Regions from separate parts of the Homo sapiens genome. Here all the other regions are linked to region 3. Evidence: fine-mapped expression QTL. A gene starts in region 3. Each other region holds a variant in brackets. All regions are shown on one strand. Distances are from middle to middle. Region 1 holds the start of LOC105371291 (a long non-coding RNA gene). Region 2 overlaps ADGRG5 (adhesion G protein-coupled receptor G5). Region 3 holds the start of ADGRG5 (adhesion G protein-coupled receptor G5).

Region 1 (5,000 bases), 65 kb after region 3:
AGCCTCCGAACATTTTAAAATGAAAACGCCCTCTCATATTCTCACTCTGTGCACTTTGCTGTTGGTGTGACAGGGCATTTAAAGATGTTTCTGGGCCGGGTGTGGTGGCTCACGCCTGTAATCCCAGCACTTTGGGAGGCCGAGGTGGGCGGATCACCTGAGGTCAGGAGTTCGAGACCAGCCTGGCCAACATGGCGAAACCCTGTCTCTACTAAAAATACAAAGATTAGCCGGGAATGGTGGCGCATGCCTATAATCCCAGCTACTTGAGACGCTGAGGCAGGAGAATCGCTTGAGCCCAGGAGGCGGAGCTTGCAGTGAGCCGAGATCACGCCACTGCACTCCGGACTGGGGAACAGAGTGAGACTCCGTCTCAAAACAAAACAAAACAAAACAAAACAAACAAAGAAACCATGTTTCTGGCATTTTTATAATTTGTAAGATGGTGTTAACTATATGGTTATTGGCTAGAAATCCTGAGTTATCAACTGTATATGTCCATAGTTTGTAAAAAGAATAAAACAACTGAGGCAAGCTCTTGATGCTTCTTGTCTGGCATTGAGGCTGTGGGGAAGGTGCCTTTTGGAGGGGCCATAGCTGAGGGCATGCACCGTGACGCTGGACCGGTTCACTGTGCAGTGGGCATTCATTTAGCTTCAAGTTGTCTTGTTTCTGTATGTGGTGACAGCTTTCTGCTGCCATTCTTAGCTAAAGGCAAAGATGGGGGGGTCAGCTGGCATGAGAAGTGTTTAGTTTTTGTTTTGTTTTTTAGTTAAGTGTGGTGGTTTTTAAACTGTAGAACTCTTCATTGTCACTAAAGCAAAGAGTCACTGCAATGAAAATTCAGGAACCTTCTGTCCTTAAACACGATTTGCAACATTCTGTTATTTTTTTTGTATGTTTAGAATGCTGAAATGTTTTTGAAGTTAAATAAACAGTATTACTTTTTTTTAAGTTGGATAAAGGATATAAACATTTGTTTCACAGGAGAAGAAAGAAAAATGGATGATGAAGTTATGAAAAGATGCTCGGTTCCACTCAGAATTACAATAGGCACACTAAAACAATTTTTTGCCCATCTAGAGAGATCACCTCCACATTGGAATGGATATGGTGGGACTCTAAATTGGTACTACTTTTTAAGGGGGCAATTTAGCAGTGTCTATACCTTTTTTTTTTTTTTTTTGACAGGGTCTTGCTCTGTCACCCAGGCTGAAATGCAGTGGTGCCATCATGCTCACTGCAGCCTTGACCTCCCCGGCTCAAGTATCTGTACAATTTTTAATTGCACAATTCTATAACCTAGTAATCCCTCTTTTAGGTATCTTTCCTTTAGAAATAGCCACACATGTGCCAAAATATATATGTTAATTACTGCAAAGTGTATTACACTAAAAAATAGGACCCCTTAATTTCCTTCAATAGAGGGTTATGGCTAAATAATTTTACATTCTATGCAATGGAATTCTTGTACTAATGAAAAAGAATGAGATGGAACTATACATTCTAAGCAGAAATGATATCCATTATAACTTGGCAAGAGAAAGAAAAGCGAGTTGCAAACACTGTGTATAGCATACTAATTCTATTTTTGTAAAACAATTGCATATATGAGTTACAGGGATATATAATAATCATGTCTCACAATTACTGAATGTTTACTGTGTAAACCAGGAGCATTGAATTATTATTACTCCCATTCTACATATGAGAAAACAGGAACAGAGTGGTTAAGTAATTTGCCCAAGGCGGCACAGCTGGTAAGTTACAGAGCAAGGATTTGAACTCTGGCAGCCCAACTCCACAGTCTGAGCACTTAACCCTATACATGGCCTTATAGGCCAAAAATACTTCTGTTAACAGGGATGACCTGGAAAATCAAGAGTGGAGGGGCAGAGTCACTTTTTAATAAATACTTCTAAATAGACATTAAAAAACACGAACTGGTAAAAAGGACTTATAGTGAAAAGCCCATTTCCTGCAAGCCCCCTCCCCAGAGGCAACCACTTCTAATAGTTCGAGCTCATGTGGCAGTTACCTCCAGAGCCATAAATAACATGCTTCTACTGCCATTTCCTGATTTATTAACCTTGGACATTATCTGTTGACTTCTGCAAACACTCAGAAAAGGAAAAATCAGCTTACCTTTTTTCTCCTTTCTTCTTGTTATGTTGCTTCTTGATAACAGGGCTGTTTGCTGCCACTGGCTCTGGTCTAGACCCTGGGCTGGACACTCGACTGCACAGTTGCCAAGACTAGGCCCACTGAGGTTCAAGACAAAAAAAGGACTTGCCCAAAGTCACTGTGAGTTGGTGTTGGAGGTGGCACCCGGCTCCTGGTCTGCATGGCTCCAGGGCCGGGCTGTCTCTGTGATACCCTTTGGCCCACCCTGAGAGTGACTCT[T/G]GTGCCACCCCTGGCCCACGCGGGCCTCTCTCACTCTGGCAGAGGCTTAGCATGGCTGGGGTGGGTGGCCCTGGCTGGGTTCCTGCTGAGGGCTGGCTGAGGCCTCCTGCTCAGGCAGGGGCAGGCATATTTGCAGAGCAGCAGGTGCAGCCTCCCAGTGTTTGGCCAGCCAAGGGTTTTATTCTCCAACACTGCCAGACCTAGACTTTGACCCTCAGGGACTTCTACACAGCTGGCCTTCCAGATCACTGCCCCCATAGCCTCTATATCTCCAGGGGAAAGGCTGAGCCAGTGGCTGAGACTGGCAAAGTGCCGAGCACCAGATACCCAGGACCCTTAGGGCGAAACCACCAGACTCACATGCCCCAACCCTGCAGTCGCCTGGGGCCATCGGGCGGGTGTGGGGGTGGGGGTGTATAGGGGTAGAAGGAGCTTTAAAAAATTACCAGTGCTGGCCAGGCATGGTGGCTCATGCCTGTTATCCCAGCACTTTGGGAGGAATAGGCGGGCGGATCACTTCAGGTCAGGAGTTTGAGACCAGCATGGTCAACATGGTGAAACCCTGTCTCTACTGAAAATACAAAAATTAGCCAGGCGTGGTGGCGCATGCCTGTAATCCCAGCTACTCGGGAAGCTGAGGCAGGAGAATCACTGGAACTTGGGAAGCGGAGGTTGCAGTGAGCTGAGATGGCACCATTGCGCTCCAGCCTGGGTGACAGAGCGAGACTCCATCTCAAAAAAAAAAAAGGATGTCCTGAAGGCCTCTTCAGCCCAGAGAGACATGGGCTTGCGGGCTGGGGGCAGACAACAAAGAAACACGGGGTTGGGGTGCAAGCCTGGGACTTGTAGGGGCCCCTAGCAGTGAAGAAAGGCTTTGCCTAGCACACGGTGGCCCCTGAGAGGATGCGGGTGGCACCGTCCCCACCCTTGTAGTCCCTTTTCCCAGACATGAGCTCCTGGCAGCTTTATTTGGGGTAGAAGAAGGGTCCTATTTATGCTGTGTCTGCATTTAGAGAGGCTGTTCACTCATTAAGTTACAGACTCTCCACCTTTCTGAACCTTGGTCTCCCCATCTGTAAAATAGGTATATGGTCAGGAATGGGGGTGGGAATTGAGGATTGTGGGAGCCTTCTGGCTTTAAAATTATGAGCCCTGAGGAAGATCCCTGAAAGAGCCTGTGCTAGGTAGGTTATGACTTTGGCTGCTGTAACAAACTCAAGAGTAAGAACCCATATAAACAAGAAGCCGTTTACTTCCATCCCATGCGAGGGACCAGGCTGCACGGTGGCTGTGGTGGCTCCTGGACTTTGGGCACTCATACCCCTTCCCTTTTTGCTCCTCCAAAAGGGTGCACCTCTTTTTTTTTTTTTAAGAGCATGATGCAAGATTTGCAGACTTTACTGATGGCTGCATCCTATTGTTCAGAACTTGGTCATGTGGCCACCCAGTTCCAAGGAATGTTAGGTAATAATGTCTTTATTGTAGGGGGCCATGAACCCAGCGAAAATATGGGGTTCTATTGGTATAGAAAGGGGAGGTGGATATTGAGGAACACTTACAGCTTCTGACATGGAATCTAGAGGTTGCTTGCTGGAGGCCCCGAGGGTGAGATCTAGCCTTAGATAGGCTTTGTTTGGCTTATGACAGGCTTTAAATCCATTTGAATTCATCCCCAACTTATAACAATTAAGATTTTCACATTAATTTCAAATTTCTGGCTTCCTTGAAAAAACTGAAGGATCAGGCCACATGGGGCTCATATTTCCTCAAGTGACAGTTCACTGGAGCTGGGCAGTGCTCCCCAGCGTGGCCCATACTCTCCAGTTCACCCCAGGTCCCCCCACTCCCTATTGTCTCCCACCCTGCCCCCTTCCTGCTCTCATTAGCTTTGCAGCCTGGCCGCTGTGGGCACTGTAGTTTGTGACTCTTGGCCCAGCATAGCCACCAGCTTCTATAAACAAGGAAATTGAGGCACAGAGAAAAAAAGAGACTTGCCCAAGGTCACCCGGTGAGCCTGGACAGAGCTGGGACTGCAGCTGCCGCCTGCACACTCAGCCTCAGCGTATTTTCTGCCGCACTGGTCACTTGAGGATCACCTGGGTGCCCATGTACTCAGGAGAAAGGATGGCCCAATGGTTAAGCCATTAGGTGCTGGAATCTGATGGGTCTGGGTTTGAATTTTGGCTCTGTCACTTTTCAGGGCAAGTAACATCAGCTCTCTGAGCCTTATTCTTTTTCTTTTTTTCTTCCTTTCTTTTTTTTTTTTTTTTCCTTTTTTGGACAACGAAATGGGATAATAATAGAGATTGCCTAATAGAATCACATGAAGATTAAAGTGAGGTGCAGGGCCATTGGCACTGACGGTGGGCACCTCCTTAAATGTTACACCCTAAGTATTTTGCTCATTCCAGCCTGCACAAGAAATCCTAATTCCTGGGACAGGAATTCAGAGACAAGTGGAAAAGCAGAGGGCTTTATCCCCATGCAACTGGGGGATGTGGCTGACCCTTCTGTGCGATGCAGCTCGGTTTCCTCCCTGTGGGGCCACAGCAGCCCCAAATTGCTGAGATCAGTCTGCATGGCAAATAGAATCTGTG
Region 2 (5,914 bases), 35 kb after region 3:
TGCAGAGATGGTGATGAGGTGGTGACAACCATGTAGTGGGGTGGAAGGGGAAGTTTCCAGGAAAGAGGGCTCCGGGCCAAGGATCCAATAGAAGATGGGGCATGCCGGCCTTGGGCTGGCCATGGAAGCAGAGAGGAGTGAGATGTGGAAAGGAGAGAGGAAGAATTTTCAGGGGGGTGAAGACATGGGGACGTGAGAGAAACCACTGTGGCTGGAAAGGTGGGCATGAGGGAGCTTCAGATTGTTGACCAAGGAGGCAGATGTGTCCTCTGATGGTGGCCTGGCTGGAAAGCCGGGTGAGGGGTTTCACTGTGTGTTCAGTCAGGCAAGAAACAATAGGGCCTGAGCCAGGAGACCGAGTGGGGCTTCAGGGAGTGATGCTGGCCTCCCCGCGGGCCTGGGAGCCACTGTGAGCCTGACACGTCACCCTCCCCTGCAGATGCTGGGTGCGGAGCCCCGTGGTGCACAGTGTCCTGGTCATGGGCTACGGCGGCCTCACGTCCCTCTTCAACCTGGTGGTGCTGGCCTGGGCGCTGTGGACCCTGCGCAGGCTGCGGGAGCGGGCGGATGCACCAAGTGTCAGGGCCTGCCATGACACTGTCACTGTGCTGGGCCTCACCGTGCTGCTGGGAACCACCTGGGCCTTGGCCTTCTTTTCTTTTGGCGTCTTCCTGCTGCCCCAGCTGTTCCTCTTCACCATCTTAAACTCGCTCTACGGTAGGGCTGGAGGGCGGCCTGGAGGAAGCTACCTGGCAGGGGGTGTATGGCTGGTGGGATGTTCACTGCTAAAGGGGTTCAGGTGAAGGGGGCGAGTGGGGGACTAACATCCAGCCCACAGCTCCACTAGCTAAGCTGGTGGGGGCTACATCTGCATGAAGGTACCCTATGGACTGGCCACAGCAGCTCTTCCAGCTCTGAGGCTCTGCCCCTCTGGCCTCCTACAGTAAGAGATTCTGGGAGTTGCCCATGGGCCCCAGGGAGGCCAGCTCGCTGCAGCCAAGGAGACCCTGGCCTTTGGGGAAGCCCATGCTGCCCCGTGGAACTCCCGCCTTTCTCTTGCAGGTTTCTTCCTTTTCCTGTGGTTCTGCTCCCAGCGGTGCCGCTCAGAAGCAGAGGCCAAGGCACAGATAGAGGCCTTCAGCTCCTCCCAAACAACACAGTAGTCCGGGCCTCCTGGCCTGGAATCCTCAGCCTCTCTGGCCGCCAGTAGCCTGAGGCTACGGCTCCTGCTAGAGAGGGTGGCAGGCCTGCTGCTGGACCCCAGAGGCCACTGTGACCGCCAAGGGGCCTTTTCCACTTCCACGGCCTCTCCAGGCACTGAGGGGAAGGCATTGCTCTACCTCTCCCTGACATTTTGCTCCGGGGCAGATCCAACCTTACCTGGGGCAGCAAACTTTGTCCTGGTACCTGGGCCCAGCTCGCCAGGGATGTGGGCAGAGCACCAGCCTGGGCATCAGGAAGCCAAGTTTCAAGGACTGTCTTTGAGTCTGTCTGTATGACCTTGGGCCTGCCACTTCTCACAGACCCTAGGTATCCACAGCTGTGACATGGGGGCAAGCGGCTTTGTTTCAGCCTAACCCAGGAGCTTAGTAAAAATTGCATAAGACCAGGGGGAAGAGTGTCAGCGTGGGGTGGGAATTCCCGCGGCCTCCACCTGCTTGCTAGGGGCAGGATCTCATTCAGGCTGCCCTGGAAGCACCTGCTTGGCCCTGCCACCTTCCTCCAGGGGAGGGCCAGATGGCATCCTGGCTTGGGGCGGGTGGGACCTACCCAGGCTCTGAGACTTTACTGGCCTATGCCTGAGGCCTCTTTTCCTTTAACTCCCTAAATTATGATGACTCCAAGTCCAAGCCCACCCTTCCCAAAGATTGGGAGGTTCCGCCGTTCCCAGAGGCTCCTCCTGCGGTGCTCCCAAGACTTCCATAGACCATCTGGACCAGTAGCCCATCCCGCAGTTTTCTTGGGGGCAGAGGAAAACGCTTCTTTCTCCTCCAGCTGAATCAGCTGGATCCCAGTGTCCTGGCTGTTTGGTGATTGGGCAAGATTGAATTTGCCCAGGTAGGCGTGAGAGTGTGGGTTTTAAATTCGAAGCTCAGGCCATAGTTTCAGAGAATCACCCTTACCCCAGACCTTCATGAGACAGTGCTCATGAAGCCAGTGCGTTTCCCAGAACGAACACTAGGCGGCACCGTTGGTCCACACTCAGAGGCCCTTGGCGCCAAGACTGCATCTAGAATCGCTCAAACACCTGTTTGCAGACCCCATGCACCAGCTGGAGGGGCCGTAACTGCAGGACTGCGCCTACTGAGTGACCCATTTCCTCCAGGAGGAAAGGCAAGACACGCTTACACGGCCATTTGTCTCTTTTCCCAATGCGGCGGTGCACTTTCGCTCTTGGGGGCTGCACCCCAGACATAGCTGGCACCAGAGCAGGGTGCTCAGGTGGTGGGTGCTCAGGGCCCTGCCCCAGGCCACTGGGCCGTTTTGATGACCTCGAAGGTCACAGGC[A/G]GAAAATAGGAGCAGGATTTCCCCTGGGGAAAAGTTCTCCTGGGACATCTTCTGCTCTTCTGTACATTTCTAGATGCAAATAACTCCTTCACCAGGCAGTGAGTGGCGTAGGCTCTGGAGCCAGGCTGCCTGGGCTCCAATGCCAGCTCTGCCACTTGCTAGCTGTGAGACTGTGGACAAACCACTCAGCCTCTGTGTGCCTCAGTTTTCCTATTTGTAAAATAGAGGCCATAGTGGTACCTATTTTGAAGACTAAGTAAAAGAATTCAAATAAAGAGACTTGGCACAGAGTAAGTGCTCAGTAAATGGTTACTGGTATTATCATTAGTATTTTTGCTATTATTGTTAACAGTGTTAACTGAGTTTCAGAGGCCAGCCTGTCTAAGCCCCAGGCCCAGCTCTGCTCAACCTTGTAGGCACAACCCCTTCTTAGGCACATCTCACCATGCCTCAGTTTCTTTCCCCAGACGGGTCTCTACTCCCACCTCGCTGACTTTCTGCTGTTCTAGGAATAGTCCCCACACAGTGCAGCCTCCAGGCCATGCCACATGTCCCCCGACCTCCCAGTTCCCCAATCTTCCGGTCTATAGAAATTCCTGGTGGTCATTTATCACATCTACAAAATTGCCCCAGCGGTGCCTAGAGAAGGCCTCTTTCCCACGCTAACTCCAGGCAGATTCTCCCCACCCCTGCCACCATCTGGGTGATGTGAGCACCCATCCAAGCTCCCATGGTTAAGCCCAGGCTCTCCAGGCCTTGGGGCAGGGGGTCCCCTTGCTAATGAGGGTCCCGAGGAATTATGGGAACCTTTAGCCCTTCTCTTGGGCAGCCCCAGGGAGTGGGGACACAGGCTCCTGCTGTGGCTGGGTCTGCATAGAGCCCCCCAGCCCAGGACCCAGCCTCTCAGACCCCACCAAGCCCAGGGCTTGCCCGAGGGAGGATGTGGCCACAGCGACACGGGAGGAGACTGGCAGTTCCAGGAAGCAGCCCCAAGCTTGTGGCCCTGAGCCCCACTGGGGTCCAGGCCCTGGGCAGGGACCACTTCCTGGAAATGTCTCACTGGGTGTGGGGGAGGGACTGAGGGAGATAGTGTGGAGCCAGGCAGGGCCCCTCTTCCCCCTTCCTCTCTCTCCCAGCAGAGCCCAGATGGGGCCCTGGGGCCAGCTCTTGGGAGCTTCCAGACTTAGCAGGAGGATGGAATGGGGTGGAGTCTGGGGGCTGTTGTTCAGGGCCAGGGACTCAGAGCAGGCACTTGGTGAACGGATGCCATGTAAATGTCAACAGGACCACAGATTAGGAGATTTCTGTGTGTGGTTTTGTTAGTGTTATTTCAGAAAAGGGTGTGTGCATGTGTGTGTATGGGGGGGCTATTGAAAATAGGGTTGCCAGATAAAATATCAGATGCCCAATTTGGGAGACGTACTAAAACATTATTCATTGTTTACCTGGATTCACATGTAGCAGGGTATCCTATTATTGATGTATTTTGATTTTGCTAAACCTGGAAGCTCTAATGAGAAGAGCATTGGCTCAGGAGTCCGGGGTGTGGACTCTTCACTCTCTAAATCCACCCAGGCTGTGCTGAGGGGGAAGCCCCTCTGCCCACTGGATGAGTCCCCCTCATTCACAGCCCACTCAGCTTGAGGTGTTCCTATTGCCAGCCAAAGCCACCACCAGAAATCCCAAGGGGTCTGCCTTGGGTGTCCCCACCCCTGCTGTCAGCCCTGGCGCAGACCTAGCCCCCATCCCCTGTAGAGGCGCCATGGACCTCCCTGCCTCCCCACTCCCAATTCCAAATTCACCCAGAAGCCAGAGGGTGTTTTCCATCCTGCAGCCTGCCCGTGTCCACCCCTGCGGAAGCCCTTCCACAGCACCCCCTCTTCATTGCCACACTCCCCAGTGGAACTTGAAAGGCCCACGGTCCGGCTTGTGTCCCCCTCTCCAGCCGTGTCTTACCACTCCTTCCCCCTCCTCCTCGGTGCTGCCACACTGAACAGCTTTCGGTTCCCTGAACAGGTTCTTTCTCATCTCTGGGCTGTTCTCTGTCTGGAAGGCTCTCCCTGTGTGTCTCATTTGTGGAGTGATGGCGACACATCCTTCAAATCTCAGCCTTGCACATCCTCATTCCCCTCAATGCAGACTTCAAATCTAGGGTGGGGCCTCCTTTCAGCCCCACCACTCCCGCCCTTCCCCCATGACAGACGTTATTTCTTTGTATTATGACTGTCCCCATCTGTCTCAGCTGCCAGACCGAGGGCATTTTGGAGACAGGTGCTGTGTCTCATTGGCTCATTCATTCACCCATCATGTAATTGTTAAACACTTGTTATATTCCAGGCACTGTACTAGTTGCTGAGGATATATAAATGAACAAGTCATCACATTCTTGTGGGGGAGGAATGTCTCACACTAAACAGTTTAACAAATAGACATAAGATATGACAGGTGGCGACAAGTGCTGAGAAGAAAAATTGAGGAGGGTGAGGGAGTAGAGTGGCCAAGAGCCTGGGTTTCAGCAGAGGGAGCTGGAGAATGAACCCAGGGGCGCTGGAGCTGGGGGCGTGGGAGAGTGTCAGAGAGCTGGCATGAACTGGCAGGTTGCCTGGAGGGGAGGGCTGGTTCCAAAGCCAGTCTTATAGCAATTTTTCCATTTCTTGATAGTGAACTTTGGAAGAGCTAGGGGTGGGGAAGATGGGAAGTTGAACCACCTCTGAGATAAAACTCTCTGAGGGGGCTGAGGTGGTCCTGGGTTGGGGTGCCCCCTGCTACTGGCAAGAGAGAAGCAAACTCAATATGGAGGTAAGCTTCCCTTGGTTAGGCCAGGAGGATGCCCAGAGTGAGACGAAGCAATGGGCTTCAATATAAAACTTACCCAAATCACAAAGTAAGCCACCGAGTGAGAGTCGGCAGAAAAGAAGGAAGCAACAGATTTTAGACCCCAGGGACGGAATACAGAATAGCCATATATGACACGTTTAAAGAAACACAAGATGCAATCGCAAAGATGAGCATATAAACGAATAGAAATGAAGAGAGACAGAGAGATTTGGGGGAAAACAAATGGAACTTCAAGAAATAAAAAGTATTATCTCAAGTTGGATGTGGTGGCTCATGCCTTTAATCCTAGTGACTCAAGAGGCTGAGGCGGGAGGATCACTTGAGGCCAGGAGTTTGAGACCACCCTGGGCAACATAGCAAGACCCCTGTCTCTATAAAAATCAAAAAAATTAGCCAGGCATGGTGGGGCACACCTGTAGTTCCAGCTACTTGGGAGGCTGAGGCGGGAGGATTGCTTGAGCCCAGGCGTTTGCGGCTGCAGTGAGCCGTAGTCACTCCACTGCACTCAAGCCTGAGTGGCAGAGCAAGACCTTGTCTCTACTAAAAAAAAAAACATAAAAAACTCTCA
Region 3 (5,974 bases):
TATGTATTATACACATAGTGGAATGTGATTCAACCTTTAAAAGGAATGAGAGTCTGACACACTACAACACGGAGGAACCTTGAAGACGTCATGCTAAGTGAAATGAGCCAGTCACGCAAGGACAAAGACTGTATGATTCTACTAAGATGAGGCACTTAGAGTGGTCAAATTCAAGAGACAGAAAATAGAACGGTGATTGCTAAGGGCTTGGGGGAGTAGAGAACAGGAAGTTCTGTTTCATGGGTATGGAGTTTCAGTTTGAGAATATGAAAAATGTTTTGGACATGGGATGTGGTGATGTTTGCATGACAGTGTAAAGGTAGATAATGCCATTGCACTGTACCCCTTTTTTTTTTTTTTTTGAGACAGGGTCTCACTCTGTCACCCAGGCTGGAGTGCAATGGTTCGAACACAACTCTCTGCAGCCTCGACCTCCTGGGCTCAAGCGGTCCTCCCACCTCAGCCTCCTGAGTAGGTGGATCTACAGGGGCACGTTACCATGACCAACTAAATTTTTTTTTTTTTTATAGAGGCAGGGTCTGCTATGTTTCCCAGGCTGGTCTCGAACTCCTGGGCTCAAGTAGTCCTACCACTAGGGCTTTGTCCAAAGTGTTGGGATTATAGGTGCGAGCCAACCCACCTGGTCTGAATCTACACTTAAAAATGCTTAAAATGGTAGCTTTTGTTACATATATGTATGTGTGTGTGCGTGTATATATATATATATCTTACCACAATAAAACATTTAAAAGTCAGACGTCCTGTTTTGAAGTCTAATAAAAGATTGAAAAATGGGGAAAAATAAGGGACATAGTCTGTGTTAGAGAGGGGTTAAAACAATTTAGCCCTCGGCGGGGCACAGTGGCTCACACCTGTAATCCCAGCACTTTGGGAGGCAAAGGTGAGCGGATCACTTGACTTGTCAAGAGATCGAGACCATCCTGGCCAACATGGTGAAACCTCATCTCTACTAAAAATACAAAAATTCGCTGGGCGTGGTGGTGTGCACCTGTAGTCCCAGCTACTTGGGAGGCTGAGGCAGGAGAATAGCTTGAACCTGGGAGGCAGAGGTTGCAGTGAGCCGAGATTGCGCCACTGCACTCCAGCCTGGCGACAGAGTGAGGCTCTGTCTCAGACAAACAAACAAACAAACAAAAAACAAAAGAAACAGTTTAGCTCTAAGCTGAGGCTTTTGCTGGACACAACCAAGATTGAAAAAGATGTGTAAATGACTTTTTTTGCATTGTGACTGTTTATCTAAAGTCCTGTCGGGGTCCCACCTACAATCTTCTTGCAGGCTACTCACCAGGGTAAGTAGCCCCCATATAGGGAGACACTTTACTGAGATGGTATGTGGCCTCCTCCCTGCCTGGGGGCCTGAGAGGAGACTGGCAGGCTTCCTACTGCTCAAGCATCCAGAGTGTTTTGTAGAGGAGCAGGAGGCAGAGAAGCCTTCCTGGAGGAGCAGGAGGCAGAGAAGCCTTCCTGGAGGAGGCAGGATCCAGTGGAGCCCTGATGGGTGGAGAGGAGCTGGAGGGCTTCCCAGGTACATGTGTGGGACCACAGCTGGGACCGAGCAGGGAGGTGGGTATTAATATGGCAAGCACAATCAGACTGGGTGGCAATGGAAGTTGGACGGGGTTAGACTGTGAAGGCAATAGGGAGCCACCACTGGTTTTTTGTTTGTTCGTTTTGTTTTTGAGGTGGAGTCTCACTCTGTTGCCCAAGCTGGAATGCAGTGGTGCGATCTCGGCTCACTGCAACCTCCACCTCCCGGGTTTAAGCGATTCTTGTGCCTCAGTCTCCCGAGTACCTAGAATTACAAGCATGTGCCACCACACCCGGCTAATTTTTGTATTTTTAGTAGAGACGGGGTTTTGCCATGTTGCCCAGGCTGGTCTCAAACTCCTAGCCTTAAGTAATCTGCCTGCCTCCACCTCCCAAAGTGCTGGGATAACAGGCCTGAGTCACCGCACCCAGCCTCACCACTGGCTTTTGAGCAGGAGAGTATCTTGGTAGTGAGCTTCAGGATCAGGAGTGCAGGGCTAAGTAACGGGCACTAACTTAGCCCCCAACTGAAGCAAGGCACAGTGAGGCTGGTACAGACCCAGGCTAGAGGGGCTATGGGGTAGGCAGGGCCTCCTCCTGAGCCCTAAGAATAGCCAGTTGGGCTCACATTCAGCATGAGGAAGGAGGAGGTTGGCATGGCAATCCTAGAGGTAGCTGGGTGACCTCGGAAAGGAAGAGCCTGGAGGTCAAGGTCTGGATCCTGATCAAAGAAAACCGAAGCGCAAAGAAGGGCCAAGGCTTGCCCAAGTCACCCAGAGGGAGTGTAGCCCAGGAGTCAGGACACAGGTGCACCGGTGTCCCTGCAAAACCTTCACCGTGCAGCTGGGGTGGGGACCTGGCTGCCCTCCAAGGAGCAGCTCCCTCCTGCTTCAGCAGAGGCCACTTGTACTACCTGCAAGCTGTATTTGGGCTGATGCGGGAAGGGCCCCAGTGAGGCAGAGAGCGGGGAGACCATGTTAGGACCTGTCTGGTTTCTCCCTTTTGCTGCCTCTCCATCTTTCCCCCAGGGCTGGAAGAGCACATTCCTGAGTCAGTTTTCCCAGGAGTCTGGATGGGGCCCAGGCAAGAGAGAGCACCGTCTCCCCATTACCAACACTCTCTCTCTATCCCCCACACACACCTCCTTGCTTTCCCTTAGAGCTCTTCAGAGGGTATGGCTGATGCAGGACAGGCCTATCCAGCTGCCTGGCTCAAGGAGAAGCTGGCCAGCTTTCCAGCCTCATGTTTTCTGGGCTCTGTGGCCAGGGAGGCCCCTCTCCACCATGCTCTGCCACTTGGCAACTCTGGGCCAGGCCCAGGTCCTCTCTGGGCTTCAGGTCCCTCATCTGTGAAATATGACGGCTTCATAGAGCACTTCCAGTGACTTTGCCAGCCTTACCTTTTGTAAGCCCCACACTGCCCTGCAAGATGGTACTGTCATTATCTCCATTTTACAGAGGGGAAACAGGTTCAGAGAGCATGAGTGGCTTGCCCCAAGTCACCCACCCAGTAAGTGGTGGGCTTGGTACTTGAACCCAGGCAGTCTGACCAAGCTGCTGCCTGAGGTCTTTGCCATCATCAATATGCCATCAATTGTCAGGTCAGGCAGGGATCATTTTCCCTTTTCTATAGATGGGAAAACTGAGGCCCAGAGGGGCAACATGTCTTGCCCAAAGGTGCAGAGCTCAGGTGGGTCTTGCGCACTGCATAAGGCCACGTTGCCATGTCCTTGAGCACCTCCACAGAGGAGCAGCCACCCCAGGAAGTAGCTGCAGACTCTACGGGGTGATACCCTCAAAGGGTGACCAGGGCATGACCGACAGCTCGAAGGAAGCAAAGAGGCTGCTGCTGGTGAAAGAAGAAGTGAAGTGAGAGTGTGGTGCCTGGGCCTGGGGTGAAGGGAGCAGAGAGAAGTGCAGTGGGGGTGCAGGTGTGGGGCAAAGGGAGAGGCCACCCACAGACGCCTCCCGACTTCCCCTTCTTCCTGCAGAAGCTACAAGACAGCAGCCGAGACAGCAGCTGAGACGGCAGCGGCAGCTTCTCAGGTCAGCCTCCTCCGGGCCTCTCCCCACTCTCCTCTGCCCAGTTCTCTGTCCTTATCCACAGGCCCCTCAGTGGGCACTGGCCATACCCATGTCCAGGTGGGCACAGACCTGGTGATATCCTGGTGAGCAAGCTGGGGACCCACCCTCCTTCCCTTTCTGGTTGGCAGCTCCACATCTGGGGCAATGTAGAGATCTGTGCTTTTGGAAGGAGGGGCAATTTAAATTAAGAAGTGGTTAGGCATGGGTCTCGAATCTTAGCTTCCCCGCGAGGTCTGGGACAAGTGAAGAGAGGTTTCTTTTCTGGACCTCAGTTTCTCATCTGTAAAATGGGGTGAGTCTGGGAACCTGCACCTTGGATGGCTGTCAGGGGCTCAGTAGAGGACCTGGCACACAGTTTGTGCTTGGCAATCTGGAGCAGGTGCAGCTCCTTTCAGAGTGACCTGGATTGGATCCTGGGGACAGCATGTCTCAGGTAAATGGACCTGCTGCTGGCTTGGTCACAGACTTCCTGTTGGGCTCCAGGGTGGCCTCTCTTTCCCAACCTGGGAAATAGGGTTACTATAGCATTTCTTAGGGCTTTTTTTTTTTTTTTTTTTTTTGAGACGGAGTCTTGCTTTGTTGCCCAGGCTGGAGTGCAGTGGTGCGATCTCGGCTCACTGCAACCTCCACCTCCCAGGTTCAAGCGATTCTCCTGCCTTAGCCTCCTGAGTAGCTGGGATTACAGGCACCAGCCAGCATGCCTGGCTAATTTTCGTAATTTTAGTAGAGGCGGGATTTCGCCACTTTGGTCAGGCTGGTCTCGGACTCCTGATCTCAGGTGATCCACCTGCCTTGGCCTCCCAAAGTGCTGGGATTACAGGCGTGAGCCACCGTTCCTGGCCTGTTAGTGCTTTTTTGCAGAGACCACAGGTTGATTGATTCCTCACCCAGGCCAGGGGCAGGGGCTCCAGACTGTGGTTGGCAGGGGCAGGTGGGGCTGTGTGCGGAGAATGGCTGGCTCAGTAGGCCTTCGTGCTGCTGGGGAGAGGTGGGCTTCGGGGGTGCATGGTCAGCTGTAGGGAGGAAGGCAGGGGTTCCCAAGCCTTGTGCTCAGATGTATTCCTGGCCAAGGACTTTGATCAGAGCCCTGGACCTTTCTCAGGGCCTGATTCCCAGGAGAGGATCAGGGAAATTGTTGTTTGAATTTCTCTTTCTGGGAAATAGATTTCCTTGGCCTCATTTTACAGATGAGAAAACCTGAGACACAGAGAGGTCAGGTGCCTGCCCAGTGTCACACAGCCTAGGCACTGAATACTGCAACTGGTTATCAAATTCTCATCTTCCAAAGGCTCTGTCCTGTGCTCCACAGCTCCTCATTTCTCTATTGGCCTAAATAGAGTCTTACTTGTCTGCAAAGCAACTCAGCTGCCCAACCATCTTTGGGAGGCTGCAGTGTGCAGGGGGTAGTGCCCTGGACCGTGGAGGCCTGGGTTTGAGTCCCAGCTTGCCCACTGGCCTGCTGTAGAACCTCAAGCAGACTCCTCTTACGCAGTATTCGGTTTCCCCACCATCAACTGGAACCATCCTGGAAGTCAGATAAGGGATTGCTGTTTCCTAGAAGGCCACAAATAATGAATTGCAGGGTGGAGAATGAAATGGCTCAGCGTGTGGGGGGATGGTGCATGGTGACCTCTCTGAAGGGATGTGGAGGGGAATTTGGAGGTTGCAAGCAGAAGTGAAGACTGTGGTTTGCTCCTGGGAAAGGGGGTGGAAACCACAGCTTCTATCTGGAGTGCCTGGGGGAGGTATCACTTCTGCTTTGGCCTCAATTTCTTCAGTTGTGTGGTAGGGTCAGGCTTTTCTTCCCTCAGTGCCTGCCTGGAACCAGTGGGGGTAAGAGCCTGGTCTTACACCTTGCAGGTCAAATCCATCTATCTCTCTGGGCCTCAGTTTCACCAACAGTATAGTGAAGGGGTGGACAAATTGGCCCAAGATCCTTTCTGTGCTGTCAGGTCCTCCACTACTGGGCCTGAGTTATCTCTCCTGAATGAGTTCCTTCAGTAGCTTCTTTTGCCTCCCCAAACCTTTCTGTTTTTTTGTTTGTTTGTTTGTTTTGTTTTGCTTTGGAGACAAAGTCTCACTCTGTCACCCAGGCCGGAGTGCAGTGTCACAATCACGGCTCCCAGGCTCAAGTAATCCTCTCATCTCAGCCTCCTGAGTAGCTGGGACCACAGGCTCATGCCACCATGCTGGGTTAGGTTTTTTAATGTTTAATTTTGTAGAGATGGGGTCTCCCTATGTTACTCTGGCTGGTCTCAAACTCCTGGGCTCAAGTGATCCTCCTGCTTCAGCCTCCCAAAGTGCTGGGATTAAGGCATGAGCCACCACACCCGGCTCCCCCA

The links. PIP is the estimated chance that this variant, and not a neighbour inherited with it, causes the effect.
Region 1: its variant is fine-mapped to the expression of ADGRG5 in whole blood (TOPMed, PIP 0.99).
Region 2: its variant is fine-mapped to the expression of ADGRG5 in whole blood (TOPMed, PIP above 0.99).

Annotation. Positions count from the first base shown.
Region 1 is chr16:57,604,583-57,609,582 of GRCh38, forward strand. It overlaps LOC105371291 (a long non-coding RNA gene), which reads right to left and starts at 2,440. Exons shown (of 4, transcript XR_933627.4): 1 at 2,146-2,440. It also overlaps the pseudogene HMGB3P32. The variant T/G (reference allele first, on the strand shown) is at 2,404.
Region 2 is chr16:57,574,376-57,580,289 of GRCh38, forward strand. It overlaps ADGRG5 (adhesion G protein-coupled receptor G5), which reads left to right. Exons shown (of 12, transcript NM_001304376.3): 11 at 440-717; 12 at 1,063-2,814. The coding sequence ends at 1,163. All of the region lies in intron 1 of LOC105371291 (a long non-coding RNA gene), which reads right to left. Among named protein-coding and RNA genes, the nearest start is that of ADGRG5, 35 kb to the left of the region's middle. RefSeq lists an enhancer at 844-1,013 and a silencer at 2,060-2,129. The variant A/G (reference allele first, on the strand shown) is at 2,509.
Region 3 is chr16:57,539,109-57,545,082 of GRCh38, forward strand. ADGRG5 (adhesion G protein-coupled receptor G5) reads left to right here and starts at 3,535. Exons shown (of 12, transcript NM_001304376.3): 1 at 3,535-3,593. RefSeq lists enhancers at 1-61, 312-361, 382-441, 3,315-3,484, 4,989-5,298 and a silencer at 4,879-4,928.